4 separate regions of the Homo sapiens genome follow, and all the other regions are linked to region 1. The links come from fine-mapping of genetic effects on gene expression. A gene starts in region 1. Each other region holds a variant in brackets. All regions are shown on one strand. Distances are between the middles of the regions.

The links. PIP is the estimated chance that this variant, and not a neighbour inherited with it, causes the effect.
Region 2: its variant is fine-mapped to the expression of PABPC4 in CD4 T cells (BLUEPRINT, PIP 0.95).
Region 3: its variant is fine-mapped to the expression of PABPC4 in whole blood (TOPMed, PIP above 0.99).
Region 4: its variant is fine-mapped to the expression of PABPC4 in whole blood (INTERVAL, PIP 0.98).

Annotation. Positions count from the first base shown.
Region 1 is chr1:39,572,729-39,580,834 of GRCh38, reverse strand. PABPC4 (poly(A) binding protein cytoplasmic 4) reads left to right here and starts at 4,045. Exons shown (of 16, transcript NM_001135653.2): 1 at 4,045-5,076. The coding sequence starts at 4,884. It overlaps PABPC4-AS1 (PABPC4 antisense RNA 1), which reads right to left. Exons shown (of 4, transcript NR_125979.1): 4 at 7,632-7,754. RefSeq lists a silencer at 3,791-4,100 and enhancers at 4,601-4,670, 5,171-5,220, 5,241-5,360.
Region 2 is chr1:39,355,534-39,363,639 of GRCh38, reverse strand. MACF1 (microtubule actin crosslinking factor 1) reads right to left here. Exons shown (of 101, transcript NM_001394062.1): 45 at 5,747-6,265; 46 at 4,767-4,943; 47 at 4,376-4,499; 48 at 2,639-2,847; 49 at 1,963-2,280. Among named protein-coding and RNA genes, the nearest start is that of BMP8A, 130 kb to the left of the region's middle. RefSeq lists an enhancer at 4,090-5,289. The variant GTATATATATATATATATA/A (reference allele first, on the strand shown) is at 3,586.
Region 3 is chr1:39,410,494-39,418,599 of GRCh38, reverse strand. All of the region lies in intron 58 of MACF1 (microtubule actin crosslinking factor 1), which reads right to left. Among named protein-coding and RNA genes, the nearest start is that of BMP8A, 77 kb to the left of the region's middle. The variant A/G (reference allele first, on the strand shown) is at 3,044.
Region 4 is chr1:39,371,205-39,379,310 of GRCh38, reverse strand. It overlaps MACF1 (microtubule actin crosslinking factor 1), which reads right to left. Exons shown (of 101, transcript NM_001394062.1): 52 at 6,715-6,832; 53 at 788-850; 54 at 1-108. Among named protein-coding and RNA genes, the nearest start is that of BMP8A, 120 kb to the left of the region's middle. The variant G/C (reference allele first, on the strand shown) is at 4,679.

The DNA.
Region 1 (8,106 bases):
TTCTCACAATAACCCTTTTAATTGTTAATAAGGTTTATTAGTATAGTTCAGATGAGAAATTTGAGGGTCAGAGATGTGAACTAGCTTGCCCAAAGTAATATAGGTAATAAGCTCCCCCAATAGACAATAAGCTTCAGGAGGTCAGAGCTTGTGTGGGTTTTGCTCATCTGTGCCTAGTATTCATTTGTTTATTTAACAAATATTTAGGCCAGGTGCAGTGGTTTATGCCTGTAATCCCAACACTTTAAGAAGCCAAAGTGGATCGCTTGAGGTCAGGAGTTTGAGGCTGCAGTGAGCTATGATCAGGCCACTGCACTCCAGCCTGGGCAACACAGTGAGACTTTGTTGCTTAAAAAAAAATACATGCAGTGGCTCATGCCTGTAATCCCAGCACTTTGGGAGGCCAAGGTGGGCGGATCACGAGGTCAGGAGATCAAGACCATCCTGGCTAGCACAGTGAAACCCCATCTTTACTAAAAAATACAAAAAATTAGCCGGGCGTGGTAGTGGGCACCTGTGGTCCCAGCTACTCGGGAGGCTGAGGCAGGAGAATGGCGTGAACCCGGGAGGCAGAGCTTGCAGTGAGCCAAGATCGCGCCACTGCACTCCAGCCTGGGCAACAGAGCGAGACCCAGTCTCAAAAAAAACAAAAAAACAAAAAAAAAAATACACAGGCTGGGTGTGTGGCTCACGCCTGTAATCCCAGCACTTGGGGAAGCCGAGACGAATACATCACCTGAGGTCAGCAGTCGGAGACCAGCCTGGGCAACATGGTGAAATCCCATCTCTACTGAAAATACAAAAAGTAGCTGGGCATAGTGGTGGGTGCCTGTAATTCCAGCTACTTGGGAGGCTGAGGCAGGAGAATCACTTGAATCCGGGAGGTGGCGGTTGCAGTGAGCCGACATCACGCCACTGCACTCCAGCCTGGGTGACAGAGCAAGTCTCTGTCTCAAAAAAAAAAAAAAAAAAAAAAAGGCTGGGCGTGGTGGCTCACCCCTGTAATCCCAGCACTTTGGGAGGCCGAGGCGGGCAGATTACAAGGTCAAGAGATTGAGACCATCCTGGCCAACATGGTGAAACCCCATCTCTACTAAAAATACAAAAATTAGCCAGGTGTGGTGGCACGCACCTGTAGTCCCAGCTACTCGGGAGGCTGAGGCAGGAGAATTGCTTGAATCCGGGAGGCGGAAGTTGCAGTGAGCCTAGATCGCAGTACTGCACTCCAGCCTGCCAATAGAGCGAGAGTTGGTTTCAAAAAAAAAAATAGCCAGGTGTGGTGGCGCATGCCTGCAATCCCAGCTACTTGGGAGGCTGAGGCATGAGAATTGCTTGAACCTGGGAGGCAGAGGTTGCAGTGAGCCGAGACTGCACCACTGCACTCCAGCCTCGGTGACAGAGGAAGATTTCATACCCCCCCCACAAAAAAAACAAGAAAACACACACACACACACACACACACACACACACACACACAAACATATATTGAATATTTATTTATCTATTTATTTTTTAGTAACAGAGTCTCACTCTGTTGCTCAGCCTGGAGTGCAGCGACATGATCATAGCTCACTACAGCCTTCAACTCCTGGCCTCAAGCGATCCTCCTACCTCAGACTCCCAAGTAGCTGAGACCACAGGCATGTGTCCCCACACCCAGCCAATTAAAAGAAAATTTTTTTTTGTAGAGATAGGGTCTCACTCTGTTGCCCAGGCTGGTTTCAAATGTCTGGGCTCAAGCGATCCTCCTGCCTCAGCCTCCCAAAGCACTGAGAGTATAGGTGTGAGCCACCTGCCTGGCCAGTTACTGAACATTTAGTACGTGCTATGTTAAGCACTATTCTAGATTCCTGTTCTCATGAAGCTTATATACCAATGTGGAAAAGATAGATACTAAACAGGTAAACAGATATAGAACAACATAATTTTGGGTAGGAATAACAGGCTTGAAGACAAGAAGACAAGTTGGTGTGATAGTGATTAACAATGTTGACGGCTACTTTAGACCACAGGAGGTCTAGGAAGACTTTCCTGAGGAGGGAATCTATAGAAGGAGCACTCCCATAAATGTTCCTTTTTTTTTGAGACGGAGTCTCGCTCTGTCACCCAGGCTGGAGTGCAGTAGCATGATCTCAGCTTACTGCAACCGCTGCCTCCTGGGTTCCAGCGATTCTCCTGCCTCAGCCTTCCAAGTAGCTGGGACTATAGGCACGTGCCATCATGCCCGGCTAATTTTGTATTTTTAGTAGAGATGGGGTTTCACCATGTTGGCCAGGCTGGTCTCGAACTCCTGACCTCAGGTGATCCGCTCACCTCAGCCTGCCAAAGTGCTGGGATTACAGGTGTGAGCCATCGTGCCCAGCCAATGTTTCTTGATTTAATATAGTTATTAGAATATAAACTCCATGAGAGAGGGAGTGACTTCTGGTCCACCATGGTATCTCCAGCCCCTGTATTGACATTGGCATAGAGTAGGCTCAGATTAACCATTTATTTGAATTAATTAATATATAAATACACATATTTCTTTAGTCATTTACTTAAATCAGTGCTTTTGAAGGGGGATGTCTGTGTCTTTTGGCAATTTCTGTTTTTGGTTTTCACAGTGATGGCAAAGGTGGTTCCTGGCACTTATGGAAGAAGGGATGCTATATATCTTGTAATGCGTGTGGACAGTCCCATATAACATAGTCCTATAAAGTGATATGACTTTTTTTTTTTTGAGACGGAGTTTCGCTCTTGTTGCCCAGGCTAGAGTGCAATGGCATGATCTCAGCTCACCACAACCTCTGCCTGCCGGGTTCAAGCGATTCTTCTGCTTTAGCCGCCTGAGTAGCTGGGATTACAGGCATGCACCCCCATGTCTGGCTACTTTTTGTATTTTTAGGAGAGACGGGGGTTTCTTCATGTTGGTCATGCTGGTCTCGAACTCTCGACCTCAGTGATCCGCCCGCCTCGGCCTCCCAAAGTGCTGGGATTACAGGCGTGAGCCACCACGCCTGGCCTGTGATACGACTTTCAAATGACCTGCCAGACTCTCATGCAGATGAAAAGTCTTTTTATAATTATCCAAGCCTAGAAGAAACTTTAAACATAGGAACAGAAAGTATTTCTGTGCCCTTAAACACAAACTAAATGTCCGGGAATGCCACCAGCATGTCAATAGAGGGGATGCTTGTGTTTGGTTTCATTGAAGCTTTACCAAAATGTGCTCATCTTTTCAGAAAATCCCATCACCCATGGATACTGCTTGCATTTCTAGTTCCTGACGATTCTACCTCTAGGTCAACGGTATCCTGAAAACTTCTCAAATCTTTATTGTATTTGGACCCAGACATTTACCTATTGGACCACCTATTATTTTATTTTAACTTATTTTATGTCACCTTCATTTCACAATTTGGCATACCATTTAATTTTTTTTTTTTTGAGAGGGAGTCTCACTCTGTTGCCCAGGCTGGATGGAGTGCAGTGGCACGATCTTGGCTCACCGCGACCTCCGCCTCCCGGGTTCAAGCTATTCTCCTGCTCAGCCTCCCGAGTAGCTAGGACTACAGGCGCATGCCACCACGCCCGGCTAATGTTTTGTATTTTTAGTAGAGACGGGGTTTCACCGCGTTAGCCAGGATGGTCTCGATCTCCTGACCTCCATGATCCATCCGCCTCGGCCTCCCAAAGTGCTGGGATTACAGGCGTGAGCCACTGCACCCAGCCCCATACCATTTAATTTTAAACCTCATGCGTGTGTGCAGGTTAAATGGCTCCTAGGTTCCATTCCCGGGTGATGGGTGGGAGGGTGTTAAGATTTATTTGTTATAGAAAGGGGCCCTGGGGTCTCCCGCAGCCGCGAGCTGGGCGGTCCTCCCGGCGCCAGGGGTCGCTGTAGCGCCGCGCGGCCGCGCCGGGTCGCTCTCGCGTGGCCGCCCCGCCTCGGGCCCCCGGGCCGAGTGGGCGGGCACGACTGCGCCCAGGTCGCGAGGCGCCCTTCGACCAGCAGCGCCCGGGGCGGGCGGGTATAAATGGAGCGGTGGCTCCCTCGGCCGCCTCTCTCCGCCCCGGGTCGCTGCCGCCTCCGCCGCTTTCGGGCTTCGCAGCCTGAGGAAAAAAAGAGAAAAAGATAAAAAAAATCTGAAAACGCTTCAAAATCCTGAAAAAAAAAAAGGAAAAGAAAAAACGAATCCTCGGAGAACCCGCGGGGAAGTCACTTTCGTACGCTTCCGGCCTGCCCCGCGCCCGCCGCCGCAGCGCTTGGCGTCCGTCGGTCTCCGTCCGTCGGTCCGGGGGTGAGCCGCCCGCCCGGCCCGCCGTGCCCTCCCCCCGCTCGGGCCCCGAGCCCCGCGCCCCGCGCCTGCCCCGGCGCACCACGTGTCCGTGCTGCCCTTCGCCGCCCGCCCGGGGCTCGCCGAGTCGGCGCCCACAAAGATTTGGTTTCCCTCTGCCCCGGCGGTTGTAATCTTAAACCGCCGGAGCCCGAGGCCTATATTTATAGAGAAACGCGTGTCCCCGAGGCCGCCGTGGGCAGCGTCCGGTCGCCTCTTAAAGGATTTTTACCCTTCGGAAGGGGATTCCCCGTTTAATTTTTTTCCTACTTTGATTTTTTGAAATTTGGAGCTTCGCACCAGGACCGCGGAGAAGTGCAAAGTCGCGGGGAGGGCCGTATTGTGCGGAGAGCCTTTTGTCTGCGGTGCTGCGGCCGTGGGAGCCGGCCCCCGCCTCCCGTTTCCGTCCCGTCTCCAAGCCCGCCGACTCCAGCTCGTCCTCGCCGCGCCGGTGCCACCTGTGAGCCGCGGCGCGGGCCCGGGCTCCGAAGGCGCCCCTTTGTCCTGCGGCGGGCCCGATAAGAAGTCCTCCTGGCGGGGCTCGGGGTGGTGGGGGGCGGGGAGATGAACGCTGCGGCCAGCAGCTACCCCATGGCCTCCCTGTACGTGGGCGACCTGCATTCGGACGTCACCGAGGCCATGCTGTACGAAAAGTTCAGCCCCGCGGGGCCTGTGCTGTCCATCCGGGTCTGCCGCGATATGATCACCCGCCGCTCCCTGGGCTATGCCTACGTCAACTTCCAGCAGCCGGCCGACGGTGAGTAGAAGCTGTGCCCACACGTGCGTGGGAGCCCGGAGGACCCCGGGAGTCGTCTTCTGGCAGGGCCCTCCTGCCGAGGAGGGCGGCATCACGACAGCATGTTGCCACCGAAGCTGGGAGCAGGGTGCGGAGATTGAGAACGCGGACCTGGCATCAGATGACTCGAGTTTCAATCTTGTTTCTACCACTTGCTAACTGGGTGACCTTGGGCTACTTATTAGTGTTGCTGGTAGTGGGGTTGGAAACCAAGGAGACTGTAAAACAGGATTAGAGTGAAGCCACTGGCATTCCACTGCGTGTGGTCCTTGTCAGTGGGGCTGGGCTGTTAGAGATCCTTGCTTGTGCCCCTCACAGGCTGGCCAAAAAGGCGGGACGTTTGAAACACAATTCCCCGCGAAAGTTTTACATTGTAAAGCTCCTGCCCGCTCCGCCACCTTTACTAACCTTGACTACCTGATGTTGTGCTGATAAAGGATCAGTCAGGGCAGGCAGGAAGCAGGGGGAAGGTTTCTGTGCGTTAAACTTTCGCAGAGACTTAGGTTAGTGCCACAAAAGCTGCGTGTGCCAGGCCACCTCCTTGGTCTGTGTGTTTGCCACTGGAGTGGAGAAGTGCTTTACTCTGGACAAATGGTATCCAGGCTCTGTGCTGTAGAGTGTCGTGGAGGTAGTTTAGGGAAGCGTCACTTGAAAATCTGGTGTCATTTGTCACCTCAGCTGTAACAGTGCTTTGCACTAGTCAGAGCCCTTTTATTTCATCTAATCTGAAGAAAATGGGACTCCTGAGAAGGAGAACGAATGCAAAAAGTTGGAAGCCAAGTTAGGACTCCCAGCACAGTGCTCTGCCACCTCAGATTGTGGCCTTAGCGTGGAGCATGGAGAGAGGTATGCTGCAGGCGTGGCAGGAGGGAGGCCAGAGGAAACCTGATCAGAGGCTGCACGTGACTCCAGATTAAAAGGGAACAACTGCAGAGATCATTACTGGGAGAAACAAGCCATTCTATGGCAAAGCATCTCCAGGTCCCTAGTTTTGGGGTCCCCCCTTTGTTTTCTGTCTGAGGCCCAGAGTTACTACCTGCCCAGGTTGCGGCTGAGACCAGAGAATTGGACATGTTGAGAGGGACTAGGTATTGCTACTGTCAATCCAGTGTGCTCCAAGCTGAGTTCTGTCCATGGCCATAGGAGCGCAAAGGTAGCTGAGTGTGGTCTTTTTAAGGGATAATGTACCACATTAGCTGTTGTCTGCCTTACTGACTTTTGAACAAAAGTCGTGTCACTTAGAGATAGCAGAAGCTATTGGTCAGTGTGTCTGCCAACACATACTTCTGCAGGACTTCTCCCTGCTATAAATAAGTGCAGCCAGATTTGTCAGACTAAGCCGGCTTGCCTTGTGCAGTGCTGTCTGGAAATAGACGAGGAGCTGTTGTTGAAGTGGGCTCCTTTACTGCTAATTAATGAAATAGTTTGCGATCCCAGCTATCTATCTCTGATAGCCATCACAAGCAAAGTCCTCTTTCCCTGGACTGTTCCTGACTTGGATCGGTCTTGTCATCTCCCCTTTTCCCAACTACCCCCCACACAGATGAGGCCCACCTTCTGAAGGGGGTGGGGAAAGTTGTTGGAAATAATGAGTGAAAATAAATTCTCCCGGCTAATGAAACAGTTGAGCTTGTGGAGCGGCAGAGTTGGGGAATTTTGTCCCCCCTTTAAGTGAGATGTTGTCCTGAGGCAAGGAGCAGGTTCCACTGCTCTGACCCTGTCTAAATCCCCTCATGGAGGAGGTTCTGGGTGATGTCACCGTTAGGAGATGCCATCATAGCCTTAAGGAAAAGTGGCCACCAGATCTGGGCATCCTTGTTGCGATTAGTGATGAGAAGTGTTTTGGCTGGCAGGTGGTGTTATTTTTTAGCTTTTGGTTCTTTTTGTTGTTGTTTGTTTTGAGACACTGTTTCACTCTTGCTGCCCAGGCTGGAGTGCAATGGCGCGATCTCAGCTCACTGCAACCTCTGACTCCTGGGTCCAAACAATTTTCCTGCCTCAGTCTCCTGAGTAGCTGGGATTACAGGCACCCGCCACCATGCCCAGCTAATTGTGTATTTTTAGTAGAGATGGGGTTTTCACCATGTTGGTCAGGCTGGTCTCGAACTCCTGACCTCAGGTAATCCACCCGCCTTGGCCTCCCAAAGTGCTGGGATTACAGGAGTGAGCCACCATACCCAGCCCAGCCTTTGGTTCTTTAAATTGTCTCTGGTGTACACACGGACTTGGTTGGGAAGCTAAGGAAGCATTCCAAGGTGTTGGATGGGGAAGTTGGTTGAGCACCCAGGGTAGCTGAAGTCCTAGAATTCTACAGAACTTCCATTAAGGCTTCAAAAGGTGGGTGCAGGGCCTGCCATCTGCGCACTGTCTACTTAGGCAGAAGGTATGGTGGTTTTATCCTTGTGATAGTACAGAGAACTTTTCCATGTGTGATCAGTTGTGTCCATTTTGATGACTGATGCTTTTTTGTTTAAGTCAATTTCTGTTCTCAGAAATTGAAAATAAACTGGACTGAATTCTGAATTCAGGGATAGCACCTTTTTTTTTTTTTCCAGATCATTTGCTTTACAGGTTTTGTCACTTGTCTCCATAGGTGGATTGCAGACTAAATGACTTGATAACTTTGATGCAATACCTCACTGAAAAATAAATCAGATAATCTAGTATTAGTTTCGTAATTACTAGCTAGCTGCACAGCTTAGTTACCCTAAACATAAGTTTGTTCATTTTGTAAAATGTATAATTTCAGCTGTCCCACCTGAGTCATGGTGGGTGGTAGTCTGCAAAGTCTCTTCTAAGTGGTAAAGCTTAGTCAAATGTGAGGTATTATCACTGGATCTTGGTGTCATTAAGGCCATTTAGATTATCTTTACTTGTGGCCCCTTTATCCAACAAGGGCACAGACCCAGAAGGGTGTTTAGACTTCTGTCATGAAGTAGAGTCATTAGCTGGAACTTATGCTTCCCTTACTAACAGTGCAGGCTGGAGGAA
Region 2 (8,106 bases), 220 kb after region 1:
CAGAGTAAGACTCTGTCTCAAAAAAAAAAAAAAAAGAAAGAAAGAAAGAAAGAGTCTTGTTGATTAAACTGTAACTCTTCTACACAATGAAAGTATGGTTTAAAAAACAAAGATCTCTGTGAATCCATATTAAGTGATTTCCAAGACATATTAAGTAAAAAAGCAAAGGATTACGTAATATACCCTTCTTTTTTGTAAGGAAGAATGGAGAATAAGAATGTGTGTGTATGTTCATTTTGGTAAAAAGGAATAGAAAAAAATAAACCTGAAATGTGTTACTATGGGGATGGGTGAAAATGGGATGGAAGAGACAGGAAAGACAATGAGAATATATCCTTATTCACTTCCTATACCTTGAGTATAACTTTTTGAAGAGTTTTAACTTTTGACCTATGTTAATGCTTTACATATTTAAAAATAAGTTTAATCAACAAAGGTAGAAAAATAAAGTCCTAAAGTTGAATACAAATAGAAACAAATCTAATTATATAAGAAATTACAGAAAAAATAATTCAGGTAATTTTTGAACACAGTACATAGTGGGTCATAGGCTAAGGACAAAAACAAATCCAAAGAAATCTTCAATTTTATTTAGCAGGTTTGTTATTGGTAGAAATACTAATGTAATTCTAAAACTATCTTATATTTATTGTAGAATAAAACAAATAAGTAAATATATTAAAGTTGCTGGGAACTAGGGTTCTCCCTACAGGAAAGGAAGATACAAATGTGGAAAGGAGGAAGATTCCTATGGTGTTGCGTTGAGACTAGACTATCAGTATGATTTTATGATATAAGAAACATACACATATATTTCCTAACACTATCTATTAAAAAGAACCTAAAAGTAGTGACACTCCAGTAGCTCATCTAGTGTCCAGATTTGGTTTCTAAATATCATTCCCCACTAAAAGTGGGACTCCTTGGATAAATAGCTGATTTCAGATAGGGGACAAGGAAATACATTATTGTGCCACAAATATCTTAAGTTCCAAAAGTGCTCTTATGCTGAGGAAGACATGTCAAAAAGCCACAGGAGACAGCTTGAAGAGGCTCCCACCGACCACATTTGGGAAAACGTTAAGTATCATAAAGAATAATGGTAATAACAAATATAGAAGCCCATAATGATACTCTCTTTTATATTTTTATAAGAGAGGGAAAACAATTAGCAACTGGTGAATCTAGGTGAAGAGTATGCTGGTGTGTAATGGACCATTTCTTCTGCTTTTCTGTAAGTTTGAAATCATTCAAAGCAAAAAGGAGAGCAAACCAAACCAAACAATGAGATTCCACTTTAATATGGAAAAAGTTAGAAAGCTGGATAAAGCGAAGGCAGCAATGCAGAGATACAGGAATGCTGAAGTACTACAGGTGGGAATGTGTGCTGGTACAGCCATTCTGGAGCTCAAATTGGCCACTACTGAGTCGAATTAAATTAATATATGCATATACTATGACTTGGCAGTTTTACTTCTGGATATATATCTGTGGTAGCTGTTAATACTTTTACCAAATATTTCTAGCTTTGCACCTTCTAGGTAAGTGGTGAGATTACATTTCCTCACCCTCTTGAAAGGTATAGGTGGTTTTGTGGAAAGTGCTTTGACTAATAAAATGTAAATAAATATAATATGCCCTTTTACCACTGAGGCAGTAATCATGAAAGCTTATATCAGGATGAAATCTCCATCAATCTGCATCCCTTGAGTGACTATGATGAACTGAGTGGCCCTGCTGATTTGGGTTGAACATGTAATAAGAGTGAAAAATAAATATTGACTGTGTTGCTTAAAAAATGGACAAATGATACCTAGTTTACGGGATCACTGTAATAATTCCCAAAGATAATGCAGGTAGTTTCCAGTATACTGACTGATGTAGTATGCGCTCAGCAAATGCTGGTTCTCTCCCTGCCCTTCTCTTCCCTTTATTCTGCTAACATGGCAGATATATCCTCACCTGGATCTGTTGGAAGAAATGTGTAATATCTTGATCTGGCTGATTTCCAGAGGCCAGCATCCGACTTTTGTTTTCCATGAACTGCTGCAGCTTACCAGAGAGGTGTTCAAACATCTCTGCCTGGGGTAGAAGCTTCTTTAGGGAGCTCTCCTTTTCTTGCTGCTGTAGACAGAGCTGTTCGAACCGCTGGCTCACCTCTGCCAGTTTGCCCTGCAGCACTGCTGCTGTAGTACTGTCTGCTGTCTCCATGAATCGGGTCACCATCTCACGGGTGGCCTCCAAGCTGCTCTTTTGCCGAGCAATGTCCTGCTTCAATTTCTGTCATGAAGAACACGTCTGTCAGCTCCTGGTTCACTTATTCCAGGACATCTGAGCCACAAACTAATAACTATATGCTATCTCACAAGGGGGACTGGAGGACTGCAACCGAGCCTCCAGAATACCACACATCTCATCACCTTAGTTCTCCACCCCTTCTACCACATGACTTTGCTATCTCCACTTTCATTCCAGCTCAACTGGGTAGAAATATCTTTACATAGATTAGTTATCATTTCTAAATCTTATTAGATGATTCACAGATATTAGGTTCCCTCTTGTTACTTTTTCAACATTATGTAATGATGGCACATAGCAAACATACCCTCTATGCTAGCTCTTGGGACACAGATCTTACCATATTTGTGGCTAAGGCTTCCTGGATGACTCCTGATGAGAGTGATGACACCTGCTTCCCTTCCAGGTTTTGTTCAACTTCCCCAATAGACTGCAACAGGCTCTCCAGGCTTTCCTGGACACTCTGAGATTGGGCAATTGCTTTCTGCAGCAGAGAAGATCGCTCAGCCAGGCTATAGGAGAGGCTTTGGAAGTGGCTGAGTATGGAATCTGAAAAATCAGGCCATGAAAAGAAAGAGTGGAGACAATTTTTGTATTATGCTTTTAAAGACTTTATTATTAATATTATTAAATAATAAATAATAAAAATTATTATTATTATTATTATTATATGGATGTGGTCTTAATATGTTGCCCAAGCTGGTCTTGAACTCCTGGCCTTAAGCAATCTTCCTACTTCAGCCTCCTAAAGTGCCTGGATTACAGGCATGAGCCACCATGCCCAGTCCTACATTGAACATAGTAATTGTAATAATAATTGACATTAAGACCAATAGAAGGAATAAGTTTGAAATGCATTAGTATCAGAGCCAAGTTCAATAAGCATTAGTTATTTACTGCATACAAAGAACCAGAAATTGTACTAGATGCTGAGGACTAAAGATACTTAAGTATCTTATCTGACATCTACAACTTAAGACTTTAAAACAGAGCATAGGCAGAGGAAGATGCATCACAATTAATGATAAAAATCAAATCTTAAGTGGTATATTAATACTAGAAGTACTGTCCTCGAGAAGCCCAGAAGGAAGAATAATTATCTTTCGTTTCTTTTGAGGAGTGGGATGGCTAAGCTAAGCTATTTAACATATGCATTACCTCACATACTTATCATTTTTTTGTGGTGAAAACACTTAAAATATACTCTCACAGCCATTTTCAAGTATACGATATATATGTGTGTGTGTGTATATATGTGTGTATATACATATGTGTGTGTGTGTGTGT[GTATATATATATATATATA/A]TATATATATATATATATATATATTTTTTTTTTTTTTTTTTTTTTTTTTTGAGACGGAGTCTTGCTGTGTCGCCCAGGCTGGAGTGCAGTGGCACGATCTCAGCTCACTGCAAGCTCCGCCTCCCAGGTTGATGCCATTCTCCTGCCTCAGCCTCCAGAGTAGCTGGGATTACAGGCGCCTGCCACCATGCCTGGCTATTTTTTTGTTTGTTTGTTTGTTTTGTATTTTTAGTAGAGACGGGGTTTCATCTTCTTGGCCAGGATGGTCTCGATCTCCTGACCTCGTGATCTGCCCGCCTCGGCCTCCCAAAGTGCTGGGATTACAGATGTGAGCCACCACGCCCGGCCTGTATACGATATATTGTTATTAACTATAGTCACCATGATATACTCTTGGCTACATCTTGAAGCATGGGCAAGATTTCACCACGCTTGGTAAGCATTCAATAAATGTTATCAGCTAAGCAATAGGAAAAACTTCAGGGGTAATACAATGTAAGTGGTTTACTTGGGAAAGAAAAGTAGATGTGGCTAGAAGATAGATGTCTGGGGAAAAGGGACTGAAGCCAGATTGTGAAGGTCCTTCAATGGTGCAAGAATAAAGTTCATTAGAGGATAAGCTCTTTGATGACAATCTATGTCTATTCATGTTTATATTCTCAGCCTCTAGCCTGGCACCACAGATATTTGCACAACACAATGTGACATATTGCAGAATAGAGGTACATACTAGGAATTAAGGGAGTACTATTATACTGTTGCTGCTTTATACCTGTAGTTTCTTGAACATGCCTGTGGTCTGGGGCTGGCTCCCCTTCAATTTCCATTATGTCACGAGCTACTTTTTGGAGTTTTTCCACAGGTACTTGGTGCTCAGCCAATTCCTCCTGCAACTGCTGCTTGTCCATGAAAAAAACAAAAGAAAAACATCTAAGTAATCAAAGATGATTCTAGGAATCCGGAGCTACTGAACAGCTTTACAGAATAATTGTAAGTTTAACCATAGCCATAAATATTAGAAGCAAGTGTTTAGCACTCAGATCTTGTCCAAGGCATCCCAACCACTGCCTTTATTTTATGTAAGCATTTGCTTTATTTTGGGGTACTTTACGCCATGGAATACAAGGTCTTGACACCACAACACAGCCTGTGTCCTGACTTACCTTTGTTGTTGCAAGCTGCTCCTGGAGAACTCCAGGGTCAGAGGCAACAGTATCTGAGAGGAGCTTCTCCACGTTGGCCTCACAAGCCTGCATCCAGGCCTGCAGGCTGTCAGCACTGTTTTGGAATTGATGATACTGGCCTAACAGCATATTCAGGTGAGATCCTAATCGTGTACACTGTGCCAGAGAAAGAAAGGTAAGCAGACTTAAGCAAGGTCAGGCCAAAGGCAGCAGCTGCCCAAAGAAAGAGGCCTGGCTTTGTTACAGACAACTCACTGTAACTTCAGATAAGGGTATTGCCAGAACCCATGGATAGATGGGTAGCAATGATCTCTAAGTGTGGGTCCCCATTGTTTGCTCCATACTATTCACCTTGACCTTCTTACATTCCCAGGAAAATTTAATGAGATGTATGACAAGCTTCCAAAGAAATGAACATAAGGTTGCAGACAAAGGTAGGGGTTAAGAAGTGCAAAAAGTATTCTTTCTTGGGGATTAGAAGTGTTGGCAGAAGGCATAAGACAGGTAAGAAGAGCTGACTGGATTCTAAACTTTAGAAGAGCGAGCAAGTTCTTTAGATAGGAAGGAAGGTAAGGATTCACCCTAGATGCTCTGTGAAATAAAGACAGAAATAAAGACTGTGCAATTGGTTTAAATTTCCCCTGTGTGCTATGTCTCTTGGGAGTCCAAGTCTGCTGGTCAGGATACAGGAAGGGGAATACTTCCACCTTCACCATCAGTGTGATATACTCCTGCCAGTGCTAGGTATTAGGTATTAGCTAGCTATCAGGCCTTTGGGCTAGTACCTATGTATTTTACATTTTGTGCATTGTTTGTGAAGACCTTCTGCCCATGGTCCAAGTATAAATCAGCTCTCCTACTGTGTCCTGGAGTTCTTATTCTGAGCCCCAGACACTACCTACATTGTGTGAAGGCTGCCATGATTGTTTCACCAAGGATGCCAGGAACTGCCCCCTTACCTTTGAGTGGAGAGCAGTGTATCTTTCTGTTGCATCCTTCAACTTGTCCTTTACTAAGTTTCCAATTTCTGATGGTTCTTTGCCTTCCTTAAAACTGTTTTCCATGTCCAAGACTTTCTGTCCTGAGATAGTCACAAATCTCAAGTCTCCTTTGTGGGAAATGACATCCTCTGAGAAGCTTCCTTGCCGCTTTAGCAGGGAGGGAAGGGTCTCGGGGCTGCTGCCTCCCTTATGCATGTTCTCCAGCTCTTTCTCGGATCGTTCCAACCAGCTTTCAAACTCTTTATGATCCTGCAGAAATTTCTGCAACTCATCCTGAAGTGTCTGCACCTGCTTCAGTTCTGCCTCTGATTGGGCCAGGGAAGTAGAGTATTGTTCCTTTAGCTCTCCCAGCTTCTGTTGCAGCATCTGTTGCTCCTCAGGTGTGAGATTGTGGCCATGCTGATCCAAGAAGGCCTGAGCTGACTGGGTGGCCAGAATGAAATTTTGCTGCTGGGACAGCAATTCTTGGTGACGGGCCTGGTAAAAAAAAATCCCCCCAAACAAAGGACAATCAGTAGGCAATCCACAATAATTTGAGGTATACAAGACTGGACTTCATACTCCATGTGAGGTCTGCTTACATTCAGCCTTGGTCTTTTCACCCACATTGCTGTCAAGTCATACACCTCTCTCAGTTTTGCTGCATCTCACATTTTTCCCTGTTAACTTCATTTTATTCAGTTCAGCCCCTTGTTTTAGGTATAGCCCTTTAATTTAGATGCTGACTCTTAAGTTGTACTTATAATCTTCAAGGACCATCTACCTATAAGCTAGAAGTAGGGAGAGGTCTCTACCTCTACTCAATAGATCACTTTTCCAACTGCTCAGAAATCACCAATATCAGTCACTCTCTAAACAGTATGCCACATGCTAATCCCCTCTGAACTGACACGTATAGGACTTTATGGTTTTCAAAGAGATTTTACATGTATTATCTCATTTGCTTTGTGGCACGACCTATAATGTAGGTAGACAATATAATACCCATATTAAGAGTAAGTGAATACCAAAAAGACGTTATATATCTTGACTAAGGTCATGCAGTTTGTTAACGAACAGAACTGCAACTCAAACCTGACTCTCTTCGCTAAACTGTACAAATGGACAACTAATAATCATCTACATTAGTGGAAGGGTAGCTGAATAAATCATACATGTGACAATATAAAAATTGTAAGTTTGGCCAGGCATGGTGGCTCATGTCTGTAATCCCAGTACTTTGGGAGGCCGAGGCTGGCAGATCACAAGGTCAAGAGATTGAGACCATCCTGGCCAATATGGTGAAACCCTGTCTCTACAGAAAATACAAAAATTAGCTGGGCATGGTGGCAAGTGCCTGTAATCCCAGCTACTTGGGAGGCTGAGGCAGGAGAATTGCTTGAACCTGGGAGGCAGAGATTGCAGTGAGCCAAGACCCTGCCACTGCACTCCAGCCTGGCAACAGACTTGAGACTCCATCTCAAAAAAAAAAAAAATGCAAGTTCTTAACTGTGAAATATGTCACTCATGTGTCCATGAAGACTGTCCCTACTAGGAAAAGCCATGGAAAATTAATTCAATAATTAGAGATTAAACTGTATTTCTGGGTAATAATAAGTAATTTGTACTTTTTATTTGTATGTACTGTGTCTATGTGCTTATACATAGACCTTCTTTCTATTCCAATGGAATATGAGTTCTTTGAGGAGAGCTGTGAGTTTTTGTTTTGAAACATATATTGGGATGTTCTTCCTGAATCTAGAAGACAGTGGGAGTTGTCAGTGTTCCTTACTACCTATACTGTTTATGCCACTACTTAGAGAAGGACTACAGATCATCGTCTAGTTTTAGCCTGTATCAACAACAACCTGATAGCCTCAGCTTCCCACATCATTTCAAGAAAGCTGAGTGACTAGGAGGCTGATGCAGGAGTATCACTGAAGCTAGGTTTTTGAGACCAGCCTGAGCAACAACATAGCAAGACTGTCTCTTAAAAAAAAATTAATGAGGCATGGTGAGTCCACACCTGTTACAGTGAGCTATGATCGTACCACTGCACTTCAGCCTGGGTGGCAAAGTGAGGCCTCATGTCTTTAAAAAATAAAAAAAAGCTGGGCGCAGTGGCTCACGCCTATAATCCCAGCACTTTGGGAGGCCAAGGCGGGTGGATCACGAGGCCAAGAGATCGAGACCATGCTGGCCAACATGGTGAAACCCCGTCTCTACTAAGAATACAAAAATTAGCTGGGTGTGGTGGCGTGCACCTGTAATCCCAGCTACTCAGGAAGCTGAGGAGGAGAATGGCTTGAACCCGGGAGGCAGAGGTTGCAGTGAGCCGA
Region 3 (8,106 bases), 160 kb after region 1:
TGAGCCACGGCATCCAGCCTTGTTATTGCATTTTTCCAGTTTTATCCTGACTGATTCTTTTCTGTTGTCCTTTGTTTTCTTTCTCCTCTTCTAGATCTCTAAATGATCTTTGGGGGTGGGAGTGAGAGAACGACGTCAGTCCTGGACTCTCTTCTCTTTCTATATTCTTCCTAGGCAATTCCATCAATTTCTGTGGGTTTAAATACTAACCACAATAAATGCTTATGACTCTCAATTTGTCTCTCTGAGTTTCAAAGCTACGTATCCAACTGCTTTTTTAATATCTCCATGCAAAAAAATGAACCACAGGCATCCCAAGCCTAACAGTTCAAAAATGAAACAGTGTCTCCCACTTTCCCTTACCTCTTCCTTAAATCAATAATTTATACTATCCACTCCACTGTACAAACCAGAACCTAAAAGTCACCCTTGATAACTCCCTCAGCCCCAACACAGAAGCCACAATCAGATCTTGTTGATTTTACCTCCAAAATATATCTTCAATCCACCCTATTGTCTTCAAATCCATTGACATCATTTTATTCAAAGAATTTGCCAAAATTTCTAACTATGTATTTATTTTATATTTATTTATGTGTGGTTTTCTTAATATCTGCCTCCTCCACTCAGTATAAGTTCCACAAGGCCAAGGACCATGTCAATTCTATTTACTGCAGGAGCCTAGTACCTGGCACAGAGTAGGTACTCATAATATTTACTCAGGCCGGGTGTGGTGGCTCATGCCTGTAATCCCAGCACTTTGGGACGCCGAGGCAGGCGGATCACCTGAGGTCAGGAGTTCGAGACCAGCCTGGCCAACACAGTGAAACCCTGTCTCTACTAAAAATCCAAAAAAAAAAAAAAAAAAAAAAAAAAAAAAAAAAAATTAACTGGGTGTGGTGGCACATTCCTGTAATCCCAACTACTTCGGAGGCTGGGGCAGGAGAATTGCTTGAACCCGGGAGGTAGAGGCTGCAGTGAGCCAAGATTGTGCCACTGTACTCCAGCCTGGGCAACAGAGTGAGACTCTGTCTAAAAAAAAAAACAAAAACTTTTTTTTGTTCCATGAATGAATGAATCCTTGTACACAAACGGTGTTAGGGAATGCAAAAAACCAATGAAGATTCTGCCGATCAGCAGAGCGTTCAAACACTGAACTGGAATTGTGGTGCTCTCCAATTTTTGCTTAAAAAGACTCCCTTGGCAAATTGTAATCTTATAGAACCCTTATTTTATACAAAAGGTTTTTTTCTTCCTTTGAACCAGTGGCTGGGATTAAGACTGAAGAGGTCTATAAATAAGCAGGGAATTTACATAACCAGAGATTGGTCTCAGTAGGCCTCAGATCCCATTACAGAAAAAGCAAACGAGTTTTTGGCATTTTAGTTCTACCAAACTCTGTTGTTATTGCAATTACAAAGTTTATATCTATTTTAACCATGTATCCATGTCTGCACTTGCACATATACATACAGACATAGAGGACCTCAGTTCATGCTAAATCACTTGTTGAGTTCTAAGTATTTATATATAAAAATGGCAGGTTCAGTTGCCTCTTGGAATCCTAAGGGAATGGAAGAAATAAAAAATTAACCTCTCATCTTGGAAAAACCTTTTAAAATAATATTTCACCAATTTAGCAAACCTGTATACTCATGTTAACTCTATAATGATTTGTTTTGTTTCAATATTTTCAAAATGGCCTCTCTACATTCTTGCTGGTTAACAGTCCTGGCTGAGGCTCAGATCTATCCTTTCCTGTACACAGATATAGGCATTTGCTCACTTCCAGATATTCCACAAAGTAACCACACTTCAAAGATGGACAACTTTGCAGCTGGGCTACCATTTCCTTCTCCTGTCATTTACATCAGGCAATATTTCATAAAAGGATTACCTCCTGTAGCTGGAAGGATAGTTAGAGATTATGTAGCCATCTACTCATTTTGCAGATGAGGAAACAAGGATTCCAGAGACTGATACAGGATTTCTATGACTTTTTCCCCTTTATGCAGATTTGATTGCCTCACTATAAATTTAATCCTTATATTTCATGATTACTGCTATATAAGCTTTATACTGGAGATATTCTGTTTTTTTTTTTTTCTTTTTATTTTCTCAGAGATGGGGTCTTACTATGTTGCCTAGGCTGTTCTCGAACTCCTGGCCTCAAGCAATCCTCTTCCCTTGGCTTCCCAAATGTTGGGATTAGAGGTGTGAGCCACTGTGCCTGGTGTGAAATATTCTGTATTATCAAGAATGGCTCTGTTGTTGACCTACTGTCTTCACTTTGTACAGGCTATTGGGATCTCGGTGTCATTCCAAATTCAATAAAACTCGGAAAAATGAATCAAAAATCCATCAGTCTCAAAGATGATGCATCCTAATTTAATGGAATGCTACCTGACAAAATAACTGGTAAAGCTCAAGGTAAAACCACCACCACTCAGCAAGGCCAGATTATCTTAATCAATCCTCTTAATCAAAGAGTTTATGGCATGCAATCAAAATGATTTTGTTGTCAGGACCTGCATGTTTAGCTGGTGCTCTAGCTGACTTAAGGCTGCCCTGAAAGGCTCTGCAGTGAGGTGAATGAGAAAACCCATCTTTCTTGTAGCATCCATCCATAGTCTAGGAAATTGATATTCATGCATTCAGTCAGTCAGTCAACAGCAAATGCCTGCTATGAAGAAGGCACTATTTTGAGTCCTAGGGGCGCAGTAAAATCAAAACAATCTTCTCACTCAGTCATCTCTTGTGTTCAGATTAAACCTCTAACTCCTGCACTCTTTACCACTGACCAAATCAAACCTGGGTAATTAACTGTGGAAAGCTGCTGATCTCAAATTCCTTGGACTAGGAGTGCTCAAGGATGTGGAACATCGTTTCCAACTGTTTCCTAACACATTCGGTTCTCTAACATTAAGAATCTTAGAGCCGGCTGGGCGCGGTGGCTCACGCCTGTAATCCCAGCACTCTGGGAGGCCGAGGCGGGCAGATCATGAGGTCAGGAGATTGAGACCATCCTGGCTAACACAGTGAA[A/G]CCCGTCTCTACTAAAAAAAAAAAAAAAAAATTATATATATATATATACAAAAAATTGCCGGGCGTAGTGGCGGGCGCCTGTAGTCCCAGCTACTCGGGAGGCTGAGGCAGGAGAATGGCGTGAACCCGGGAGGTGGAGCTTGCAGTGAGCTGAGATCGCACCACTGCACTCTAGCACTCCAGCCTGACTGACAGAGCCAGACTCCATCTAAAAAAAAAAAATAAAAAGAATCTTAGAGCCAAGAGAGACCCAAGAGGACATTTAGCCCAATTTTCTTGTTTTATAATGAAGAAATGAGGTCCTGGAAAGGAAAATGACTTGCTTAAGGACACAAAGGCAGTTTGACAAAGATGACTAAAATATCTCTATTTTTCATAAACATTATGCCTAGCTCTGGTTTTCAGAAACACATATTTGCATTTAAAAGTTCTTAATCATTTAGCTTTATTGCTTCTCTCCAATCTACTTTGGTAAATTCTTTCAACCAACCAACATACCTATTTGAAAAGAATGGGGAGGATATGGCCAGTGATTGGTAATCTTATACGCTTGGTACCTTAAATGTATCTCATTTTATCCTCACAGAGTTATGCCTTAACAAATGAAGAAACAGGAAACTCAAGAATAGCTAACTAATTTTCCCAGAGTGGTTAGGAAGCACCCCAGGTCTCATTCCAAAGCTCACACTCTGGCCTCTACCTAAATGTTGACACCACCAATGAATAAACTGTCTCTTGGTTTAGGCAAGAACATGCTCACTGTATAATTCAAAAACAGAATGACCCTTTCCTGCTAATAATCTTTTTAAAAATGTAAATCAACAACTGTTTATATCCCTGTTTTCCGTGGGATTGGCTTATCTGAATAAAAAACGAAGCATGAAATTATAAAGTCTTTCACCAGACAAAATTAAAGTATATTTTCCCCAAAAACTGAACAGAAAGACTACAAACTATAAGCCCGGGAGACCCAAAAAGAACAAAAGAACTATCTGTGCCATTTCTCATCACCACCAGGTCAGCCCTGCAAATCTCACTTTACTCTTTAGACCCTTCCCAGAATCAAAATGGACAATTACCTCATCTGAATTTAATCCAGCGGTTGCAGCCAGAGGCACTTTCCCATGTAGCACTGTGCTGGTCACCTCTTTTATGCCAAATACTAGGGAATCAAGGTCCTCCTTGATCCACATTCCAGTGGAGGAAGCCTCCTCTAGAACAGGTGTTCCTTCTTCTGAAATAGGCACTGAGTCAGTGTGGGCAGAAACTCCCAGGAAGGGCACACCAATGGGGGAAACTTCCTCCATAGGAGGCACTGCAGCAGCTGGGATGGCAGGCACCTCTGGGGTGGGCACTGAAGCAGCAGGGATGGCAGCCACCTCTGGGGTGGGCACTGCTGCTGCTGGGGAGGCGGGCTCCTCTAGGTTGGACACTGCAGCTGCTGGGGAGGCAGGCTCCTCGGGGGTGGGCACTGAAGCTGCTGGGGAACTGAGTTCCTCTGGGGTGAGCACTGCAGCTGCTGAGGAGGTGGGTTCCTCTAGGGTGGGCACTGCTGCTGCTGGGGAGGTGGGCTCCTCTGGGTTGGACACTGCAGCTGCTAGGGAGGCAGGCTCCTCAGAGGTGGGCACTGAAGCTGCCGGGGAAGTGAATTCCTCTAGGGTGGCCACCATAGCTGCAGGGGTGGGCACTGAAGCTGCCGGGGAAGTGGGTTCCTCCAGGGTGGCCACCACAGCTGCAAAGGAGGCAGATTCTGCTGGGGTGGGCACTGCAGCAGCTGGGGAGGCAGATTCCTCGGGGGTGGGCACTGCAACAGCTGCGGAGGCGGATTCCTCTGGGGTGGGCACTGCAGGAGCTGGGAAGGCAGGCTCCTCTGGGGTGGGCACTGCAGCAGCTGGGGAGGCGGGCTCCTCTGGGGTGGGCACTGCAGCAGCTGGGGAGGCGGGCTCCTCTGGGGTGGGCACTGCAGCAGCTGGGGAGGTGGGCTCCTCTGGGGTGGGCACTGCAGCAGCTGGGGAGGTGGGCTCCTCTGGGGTGGGCACTGCAGCAGCTGGGGAGGTGGGCTCCTCTGGGGTGGGCACTGCAGCAGCTGGGGAGGTGGGCTCCTCTGGGGTGGGCACTGCAGCAGCTGGGGAGGTGGGCTCCTCTGGGGTGGGCACTGCAGCAGCTGGGGAGGTGGGCTCCTCTGGGGGGGGCACTGCAGCAGCTGGGGAGGTGGGCTCCTCTGGGGTGGGCACTGCAGCAGCTGGGGAGGTGGGCTCCTCTGGGGTGGGCACTGCAGCAGCTGGGGAGGCGGGCTCCTCTGGGGTGGACACTCTGACAGCTGCAGTATCAGGCTCCTCTGGAGCATGCACTGTGGTAGCTGGGGTGACAGGCCCTTCTGGTGTACCATCCTCCTCTGTGATGGGTACTGTAATAGCTAAAGCAGCCCACTCTGGGGAGAACCCTGCGACAGCTGACATACCCTCCTGTGTGATGGCTGCTGCAACAGCTGGAGCAGTCTCCTCTGGGGAGGACACTGCAGCAACTGCAGCAGTCCCTTCAGGGACAGATACTGTAACAGCTGGGACAGTAGCCCTCTCTGGGGCTGATACTGCAGCAGCTGTGACATCCTCCTCCTCTAAGGAGACTATTGAAGCAACTAGGATGTCCTCATGTGGAAAGGGCACTAAAGCAGCAACTACAGCAGTTCCCTCTGGGGCAGGCACTGCAGCAATTGAGGTACCCTCCTCTGGGCTGGGCAGTGCAGCATCTAGGGCATCTTTGACAGTGGGTACTGCAGCAGTCCGGGAAGGTCTCTGGAGGACGGGTATCCATTCCTCTAAAACTGGTTCAGTATTACCAGCCTTGGTAACTTGTTTCTCTGGAAAAATATTTAGGAATGAATCTGAATCTCTCCTTTCCATCTCCCCTCCCTCTGATGATGCCACATTCAGCTCAGGCTTTGTATCATTCACAGTTTCCACTCCATCTGGATTAAGTCTCAGTTCTTCAACCAGCAGGTGCAGACTCAGAATCTCTGACTCTGGGGACTTCCTCTGGAGATCCTGGAAGACCTGCTCTGGGAAGTTTCTGTGGAAATGTGCTGGAGCTTGATCCTCCAAAAGTGTGGCTTGATAATCCAGCTCTTTTGCCTCACCATCCTCATCACAAACTTTCTCCACAGACAATTCACAAGTGACCACATTTCCCATTGATGTCAGACTGTTATTTTCTTGATTAACAGTTACATTCCCACTTTCCAAATGAATTTCATCTGTTAGTAAATTTGATTCATATAACACCTCTACTTCAGGTCCTGAGGTAACATCTGTTAGTTCATGATTAAAAGCAAAACTGAAGGTGACCCTCTCAATGCACTCCTCACCATTCCCCTCAGTTTGACTGCAGTCTCCCTGGGACAAACTGCCATTGTCTTTGGCCAGCTCAGAAGCAATGAAGCCTGATAATTTTTCTTCATGAGAAACCCTGTGATCAGAGTTCAGCAGTCCTCCTGGGTCCAGCTTTTCCAGTGAATCCAGATCAGCTGGCTGTCTGGACTTAAATTCTGCAGTCCTGGGGCTAAAAGGCACTTTTTCACATTCCTCCTTGCTAACAGTGGAAGTGTCTCTCATGATATCAACGTGGGCAATAAGTTCCACAGCATTAGGCACCTGAGAAGAATCCAGGGTATTAAAATATCCACAATCCAATCTAGTATCATAATCTTTTGCCCTTACATGTAAAAGGCCTAAATGCTGTTCCTTTTCTAAGGCAGCCCCTGAAAAATGACTAATTACGAGTAAATTTTCTGCATCCTGGGATGCAGCCAGCCCTTCAGAAGAGATTTGATTCTGTAGCTCAACTAGAGGAGTTACTCCTTCTTCACATAAACACTCCTTTTCAAGTTCAAGAAACATCTGCACTGAGTCTGTGTCAGAGAGCTGTTCTGCATCAATAGTACCCACAGTACATGCTGAATCTGAAACAAGTCCCTCTAACCCCTGAGCAGTTCTGTTTGCCACCTCACCGAGAATATCCTCACCTGTAAGAACACAATCGCAATCCAGGGGTATATCCTTGGGAACAGTAGCCAACTGGTCCTTGGCTGGCTGTGGGTCATCAGGGCAACAAATCTGACCAAGAGATAGGTGGCCAAAAGTCCTCAAGACAGCAGCTAAGCAATCGGATCCATCCTCCACCACTGCTGTGTTTGCTTGTTCTCTTTCTTCAAAAATATCTGCCAGGCTGTTCTTCTCATCTGCCATCAGAAAAGTCTTTTCCCTGTCTGACAGTTTCTCTTCCTCCCACTCTCCCTCAGCCTCCATCATAATCCATCGCTCATCCTCCTCAAACTTTAGCTCAGACTCTGTTTTCTCTCTCAGGCTGGGGGTTATGAGAACATGCAATTCTGGATCTAACAGCTCTTCACTCAGGCAAGGGGAGAGAGGTGGCATTTCCACAGTGCAGGCTGTGTCCCCAAGGGGGTGCTGCTTCTCACTGAAGCCTCCCTTAGCTAAACTTTTTGTGGCCCTCGGCCAGGTTGCACTTGAGAATCTGGATTCCTGCATTACATCTGTGTTACCACTTGTTGCTACAGCTTCTGATTCTACAGGCTGGAATTCATGAGGAGGGTTTGCACTGTGCTGCTGAAATCTAAAGTCCTGGCAGTCTCCACTTAAGTTTTTAAAATCTTGCACCTCTGGAATACCTATGGATTTGGACACATGTTCCAGAGTTACTGACTCTGACTGAGGTTCCCTGTGGTCCAAATGACCAGAACTTTCTGTTAATGCAGAACTGGACTCCTTCTTCTCTTGCAAGGAAGGATTTGAAGCACCAGCTTCTGAAACCTCACTGAGAGAAGCTTCTATCCTCTCTGCAAATTCTGGGAAGTTGGGTGGCATGAAGGACTTCCACGATCTCCTGTTAACATTGTCTTTGCGTTCTGCATTTGGCCGCCTTCTGGGTGGCACAGGTGCTGACTTCTGCACATCACTGCTTAGCTTTAGTGCATCAAATATTATCCTCTCATCCAGCTTCTTACCTTCTGGTGCTCTAGATTCAAAAACATTAGATGCTGCTCC
Region 4 (8,106 bases), 200 kb after region 1:
TTCTGTTGAGGATAGCCTGAAGGCTTTCCTGGCGTTCATGAAGTACTCCCCCTAGTTTCTCATACTTCAAGTTTACATCTGACATGTCACACTGGATCTCCGTCAGATCTAGTATCATAGAAACAGAAATCAGATTGGAGACAGCTCTTCGAGTATGCTCCTTGACTCCTCACTCCTAAATTACTTGCATCTCTCTTACTCCTTCTAGTGAATTAGAGATTATCTTCCTGCTAAATCATACAAAAGTTCCCATTTATATACACAAAACAAAAGCATTCTCATTAATCTGCTTTCTGGTTTTGGCATTATATACTCAGATGTATACCTTAAAATGCTAAACATGGGAACAACAAAAGTGAAGGGAGCAAAGTAAGAAATTAACCTTAGTTTACTATTGGGATTAAGGGACTTGGAGCATTCTTCCATTCCTTCTTCTCCAAACTACAGAGAAGTCACCTAGCTGGGAGGCTGAGAGCTAGACTAGATTATCTCTAGTATAACTTCTTTATAATTCAAAGATTAACATATATTTTCTTTGAGTTCCTTCCCTATTTGCCTTATCTAGTGATCCAATCTATTGTATTTCTACAATACCTTTAGCTTCAGGGGCTGCCAACCTGTTTATGGTCTATAGCCAGCAAACCACAGTTGCTTCTCCCCAGATTTTTATCCTCACACCCATTCTGGCAGCAGTTCTTCCACCACATATTGCAACATACACAGATGCAAACATAGACACTGTCCTAACACATCCAACAAAGAAGCACTGTTGAAATGGCATTCTCACCTTTGCAGGTGTGGTATCCGTTTACACTGCCTACAGAGCTTCCTACAGAGGGCAGTATGGAACCTGAGCAGAAGGACAGGGAGACAAACAGGGCAAGACCAACGTGTTAGGAATACATATAGGCACTGAATTTGTCCTTTGGCCCTCACTTTAAGCTTAGGTATCAGGAAGTTAACACAGCACAAGACAACATACTCATGGAAAGAGACAAATTATTTTAGCTGCCAGGCAACAAAACGTCACTCAAGGTTCTTAGCAGGAATGATTCTTAATCCCTTCTAGAGGAAATTCGTATTCCCTTTTTATTAAATCTCCAACTTGAATTCTCTGGATGCCGCCCTAATTTTGTGAAGCAAGTACTGGTAAAATTATTCAGTCTAGAATGGTACTTGCCATATTTTGGAATAAGCTTTTATAATAAAGCCAGAAAGTTTCACCTTTTATATCAATATCTTTCAATATAATAAAAATGAAAATACCATTAAGGACAGAAAAAGCAGCCTTTTTTTTTTTCTTTTTTGAGACAGAGTCTCACTCTGTTGCCCAGACTGAAGTGCGGTGGCATGATCTCGGCTCACTGCAACTTCCACTTCCCAGGTTCAAGCAATTCTCCCATCTCAGCCTCTCAAACAGCTGGGATTACAGGCGCCTGCCACCAGGCCCGGCTAATTTTTGTATTTTTAGTAGAGACGGGGTTTCACTATGTTGGTCAGGCTGGTCTCAAACTCCCGACCTCAGGTGATCTGCCTGCCTCGGCCTCCCAAAGTGCTGGGATTATAGGCATGAGTCACCGTGCCTGGCCTAAAAAGCAGCCTTCTTCTAATAAAGACATTAAAATGAGCCCTTCTTATATTGTTTTTAAAGGAAGATTATTTGCCTTTTCTTTCATAACCTCTTCTTGCTCACCTTTCCCCAAGAAAAAACAGAAATCCTAAGTGCCAATAAATCTGGCTCATCAACATTCTTATAAATTGTGCTTTGGGCCTTTGGTTCTGTTTCTAATCACCATAATTTCACATACATTCTCCCCAAACTGATTCCTTATATTTCAGAAGTTTCCCAAGATAGGTAAAAATCAGGTGAGGTAATGATAAATATTATACAGAAATCTGAAAAATATTCATAATGATACTTTAAAAGGACAGAAAACTCTCATATGCACTGACTTCACTGTACAAAAAGTCATGTGCAAGGTTATATTACAAAATAGTTGGCCGGGCGCGGTGGCTCACACCTGTAATCCTAGCACTTTGGGAGGCTGAGGTGGGTGGATTGCCTGAGCTCAGGAGGTTCGAGACCAGCCTGGGCAATACGGTGAAACCCCATCTCTATTAAAATGCAAAAAATTAGCTGGGTGTGGCAGCGGACGCCTGTAGTCTCAGCTACTGGGGAGGCTGAGGCAGGAGAATCGATTGAACCCGGGAGGCAGAGGTTGCAGTGAGCCAAGATGGTGCCACCGCACTCCAGTCTGGGCGACAGAGCAAGACTCCATCTCAAAACAACAACAAAAACAAAATAGTTGTGGGCCAGGTGTAATGGCTCACGCCTGTAATCCCAGCACTTTGGGAGGGTGGAAGTTTAAGACCAGCCTAGGCAACACGAGACCCTGTCTCTACAAAAAAATATTAAAAAAAAAAAAAATTAGTCAGGCATGACAGTGCACATTTGTGGTCCTAGCTACTCAGGAGCTTGAGGTGGGCTGATTGCGTGGGCCTAGGAGGTCAAAGCTACAGAGAGCCATGATCACACTACCGTACTCCAGCCTGGGTGACAGAGCGAGACCCTGTCTCTAAAAGGAAGGAAAAAAATTAGCTGAATTAGGGTGGTGATTATAAAACTTTTAAATGTTAATGTTATTATATTTTCGATTAAAAAATACAAAATAGAAAAATAACATTCCATTGCAGTGTGGTGATGCAAAAAAAGAAACTGGACTAGTAGGTGGGAGAAGACGGTACTAACCAAGGTTGTCACTAACTCAGTATGTGAGCCTTAATCTACAAACACAGTTTATTCTGCAGGATTTAAAGATAATACAACCTATCCTGTTAACTCTCATGGGGTAACTGGGAAGAGATCATGAGCGAATGTATATCAAAGTACTTTATGAAACGGAGCTAGATAAATGTAAGGAACTGAAATATACATGGTTTTTCAGAGTTGGAGGAGAACTTTGAGAGCACTCAAGATAGTAATTTTCAAACTGATTTTCAAAACACCCTAAAAACGTGCTTTAGGGATTGTGTTTAATGTTTGGTTTAAATGTAATATTCACATAAATTTCTAAGTACTTAGAAATGATAATAAAACATGCATGTTCAATTATGCTGAATTCTACACCTTAACCCACCAGATAAAACCAATTATGCTGCTTTTCTGGGGAAAGTAAAGCAGCTCCTGACACATCTAAGCATCTATTTTAAGTTATTTTTGAGTGTCCCTGATTGGAAAGGTGGTAGCTCTTTACCAGCAATTTATGATATTCAAACCTGTCCATGTCCACTCATGTATACTATACAAAGAAAAACATCTATAGCACATGTGTAATACATTAAATAACACGACCAAAAATATAACACGACTTGCTCTCTGTACATCTACACAGTTCTCATTGTGGCAGAATTGTGTAATAATAGAATTCTTAACACTTCAAGTCAGTTGGACAGTTTTTGTCCTCAATGTCAGTCTTAAGTGTTTTCTATGTGTAAAAGCCCTCATTAAATATTCTTAGTGATTTAACTTTGAAACAATAATTTCTTATTACATCACTTTCAAGTTTCTAGCTCAATTCAATCAAAGCCTGTTCTGACATTGTGAAGTCAACTTTCAAAAACATTTGTCATCATTTGCAGTTACTTAATCTGTGTGAACCATATTTTCTGGATACAATGAAACCAAACAAAATTTAGAAATAAATTAGATAGGCTGGGCCTGGTGGCTCACACCTGTAATCCCAGCACTTTGGGAGGCCAAGGCAGGTGGATCACAAGGTCAGGAGATTGAGACCATCCTGGCTAACACAGTGAAACCCTGTCTCTACTAAAAATACAAAAAATTAGCCAGGCGTGGTGGCAGGTGCCTGTAGTCCCAGCTACTTGGGAGGCTGAGGCAGGAGAATGGCATGAACCTGGGAGATGGAGCTTGCAGTGAGCCGAGATCGTGCCACTGCACTCCAGCCTGGGCAACAGAGCGAGACTCCGTCTCAGGAAAAAAAAAAAGAAAGAAAGAAATTAGATGGTGAAGCTGTCATCCAATAATCTTCCTTTTCAAATTTTTATATTCGTTAAGTTAGTCTCAATATTCTTACTGATGGATTTCATAACAGATAAATGCTATAAAATAACATATAAGGGAAACTTACACCAACAAAATGGTTTCTTTTAATTTTTATTATTTATTTATTTATTTATTTTTGAGATGGAGTCTCGCTCTGTCACCCAGGCTGGAGTGCAGTGGTGCGATCTCAGCTCACTGCAAGCTCTGCCTCCCGGGTTCATGCCATTCTCCTGCCTCAGCCTCCCGAGTAGCTGGGACTACAGGCACCCGCCACCACACCTGGCTAACTTTTTGTATTTTTAGTAGAGACGAGGTTTCACTGTGTTAGCCAGGATGGTCTCGATCACCTGACCTCATGATCCACCCGTCTCGGCCTCCCAAAGTGCTGGGATTACAGGCGTGAGCCACTGCGCCCGGCAGCCAACAAAATGTTTTGTTTTACGTAGTAGGGTTCTATATGAGATTTCTGTTCTATATGAGATTTCTGGTTTTTTTTTAAAAAAATGATCTAGTCTAGGAGTCAGTAAACTACAGCTCATCAGTCAAATCTGGCCCTTTGTTTCAACAAAGTTTTACTGGAATACAGTCACAACCACTCATTTCTATTAATGTATT[G/C]TCTTTGGCTGTTTTTGTTACAATGGCAGAGGTATATGACTGTGACAGAGACCATATACCCTGCAAACCTAAAATAGTTACTATCTGGCCCTTTATAGAAAAAGTTTGCTGACTCTGATTTAGTCACACGAATAAGTCACTGAACGTAGAGGTTGATATATCACCAATTCCCTGAAATGTCACTTGTGGATAGTTCCAAAATATCTTTTAACTTTAGAATACTATAGAAAAGTACACATTTTCAGAAAGCAAATAAATTTTTCCTTTACTCGTTAAGTGACTATAGGAGTGCACTATCACAGACTAGTAATAAAACTTATGTGATCTCAATTAACAACGAGCAAGTGACTGGGAACTCACATGAGATTTTGTTTATTTATTTATTTTTTTTTAGACAGAGTCTCGCCCTGTCGCACAGGCTGGAGTGCAGTGGCGCAATCTTGGCTCACTGCAACCTCTGCCTCCCGGGTTCAAGCAGTTCTCCCACATCAGCCTCCTGAGTAGCTAGGATTACAGGCGCAAGCCACCATGCCTGGCTAATTTTTGTATTTTTAGTAGAGATGGGGTTTCACCATGTTGGCCAGGCTGGTCTTGAACTCCTGGCCTCAAGTGTTCCACCTCCTTTGGCCTCCCAAAGTGCTGGGATTACAGGCGTGAGCCACTGTGCCTGGCCTTCATATTAGATTTTGCTTCAAAGACTTAATTTGCAGTGAAAGATTATATACACATCTGGGCACAATCTTTGTACCCCCTTTGAAGTACTGATTTTTTTTTTTTTTTGAGATGGGGTCTCCGTCCGTCGCCCAGGCTGGAATACAGTGGCACGATCTTGGCTCACTGCAACCTCTGCCTCCCGGGTTCAAGCCATTCTCTTGCCTCAGACTCCCAAATAGCTGGGATTACAGGCACAAGCCACCAGGCCTGGCTAATTTTTATATTTTTAGTAGAGACAAGGTTTCACCATTTTGGCCAGGCTGGTCTTGAACTCCCGACCTCAAGTGATCAGCCCACCTAGGCCTCCCAAAGTGCTGAGATTACAGGCATGAGCCACCATGCCTGGCCCAACACTGACTTCTAAATACCTTGCTTCTTCCTGGATATCACAATCATACCTACCCAGGCTTTCCCAACTTTTTTTTTTTTTTTTTTTTTTTTTTTTCCTGAGATGGAGTCTCACTCTGTCTGTTGCCCAGGCTGGAGTGCATGCACTGTCGTGGCTCAATGAAACCTCCACCTACCAGGTTCAAGCTATTCTCCTGTTTCAGACTCCCGAGTAGCTGGGACTATAGGTGCGTGCCACCATGCCCGGCTAATGTTTGTATTTTTTTTTTTTTTTGAGACAGAGTCTCGCTCTGTCTGTTGCCCAAGTTGGAGTGCAGTGGCGTGATCTCGGCTCACTGCAAGCTCCGCACCATTCTCCTGCCTCAGCCTCCTGAGTAGCTGGGACTACAGGCACCCGCCACCATGCCTGGCTAATTTTTTGTATTTTTAGTAGAGATGGGGTTTCACCGTGTTAGCCAGGATGGTCTCAATCTCCTGACTTCGTGATCCGCCTGCCTTGGCCTCCCAAAGTGCTGGGATTACAGGTGTGAGCTGCCGCACCTGGCCTAATTTTTGTATTTTTAGTAGAGATGGGGTTTCACCATGTTGGCCAGGCTGGTTTTGATCTTCTGACTTCGTGGCTGGCCAGTGCCCAAGTTTAAAGATGATGCTTACCCATCCCATTTACACATTCAAAAAAGGGAAATTCTCAAGATGAAAATCTCATTTTAATTATTCAGTGTTCATTTGATAGTTCTAAGTGGGACAACTAGTTCATTTACTTTTTCCATCATGGGAAGGAATTTTGCAAAATGGAGCAATGTTATATAGCAAAAGGGGTGACAGGTCAGGTTGCAGGGGAAGACTGCTTTGGGCATGCCCTTTGTTTTCATATCCAACCTTGATTTTCACTTTAATTATATAAGGAGGCATCTCCAAAGGCCAAAAGCAAAGAGCAATTTTTATTCACTATATTTTGAAGAGCCTGTACTCACCTGTCTTGCCTTGGGAATCAGGTGCTGTGATTTCCATGATGAGATTTTCTAAAGAAGTACCTTTGCAATTGATTTCTTCCACCAGAGTTCCCTTACTTGCCCAGTCATCTAGTAGACTCTGTTTAAAGAAGAAAATGGCCAAATGTAGTATCTGGGGCTTTTTCCTCATAAGTAGGGACATCTGTTCTGTATATACTCCCTAGTGTTTTGAAAAGCATTAAGAGACCATCCTTCTGATTTATTTATTCATTTATCAAATATCTATTGAACATTTACTATATGACTGGCACCATGCCAAACACTGGGGTACAAAATAGAATTATGATACAATTTCTAAAACCAGAAGCTCAGATTATCAATTGCATTATAATGTGATAAATGCTATTACAGTATTATGGACAGTCTGTGAATTCCAAGAGCATAAGAGGAGTTCTATCTAATTCTGCCTAGAGGAAGGAAAGCTCTGAATTAAGATAATGGCTGGGCATGGTGGTTCACACCTGTAATCCCAGCACTTTGGGAGGCTGAGGCGGGCAGATCACTTGAGGTCAGGAGTACAAGACCAGACTGGCCGACATGGTGAAACCCCGTCTCTACTAAAAATACAAAAAAAAAATTAGCCGGGCGTGGTGGCAGGCACCCGTAATCCCAGCGACTCAGGGCGCTGAGACGGGAGAGTTGCTTGAACCTGGGAGGCAGAGGTTGCAGTGAGCCGAGATCATGCCACGGCATCCCAGCCTGGGTGACAGAGTGAGACTCCGTCTTAAAAAAAAAAAAAAAGCAAAGAAAGATAAGAGTTTGCCAGATGGACAAGAGGGAACAACATGCATATAAAGATAAAAAAAGAAATGGTAACTAGAGGATAAATAAGGAGCTAGATATTGAGATACAGAAAAATACATAGAATCATAGGCTATACTTTGCATTTATTAAGGAAACTTTATATTGGGTTTGAAATCAAAGATCCAACTACCACAGAAATCCGTCAGGAAACAATGGCATTTGCTCTAAGACAAAAATACCACATCACGTTAAGTCTCCAAGATGTCTCCTGCCATAGTTGTAGGATTTTACTCCTTTCAGAGAAAGGACACCATTCTAGCCTTCATTGCCCTCCTCCATACTGAATATCCCTGACAATCTACTTAGTTTGCTTTTGACTTTAAGCTGCAGAGAAAGGCACAGAGCTCTACTCATATTGCCTAATTTCAAACTGACCCTTGGTCACTGCTTGTCAGTTCTTTAATTAATCACTCTTTTTTTTTTTTTTTTTTTTTGAGACAGAGTCTCACTCTCTATCACCCAGGCTGGAGTGCAGTGGCACCATCTCAGCTCACTGCAACCTCCACCTCCCAAGTTCAAGCAATTCTCTGCCTCACCCTCTTGAGTAGC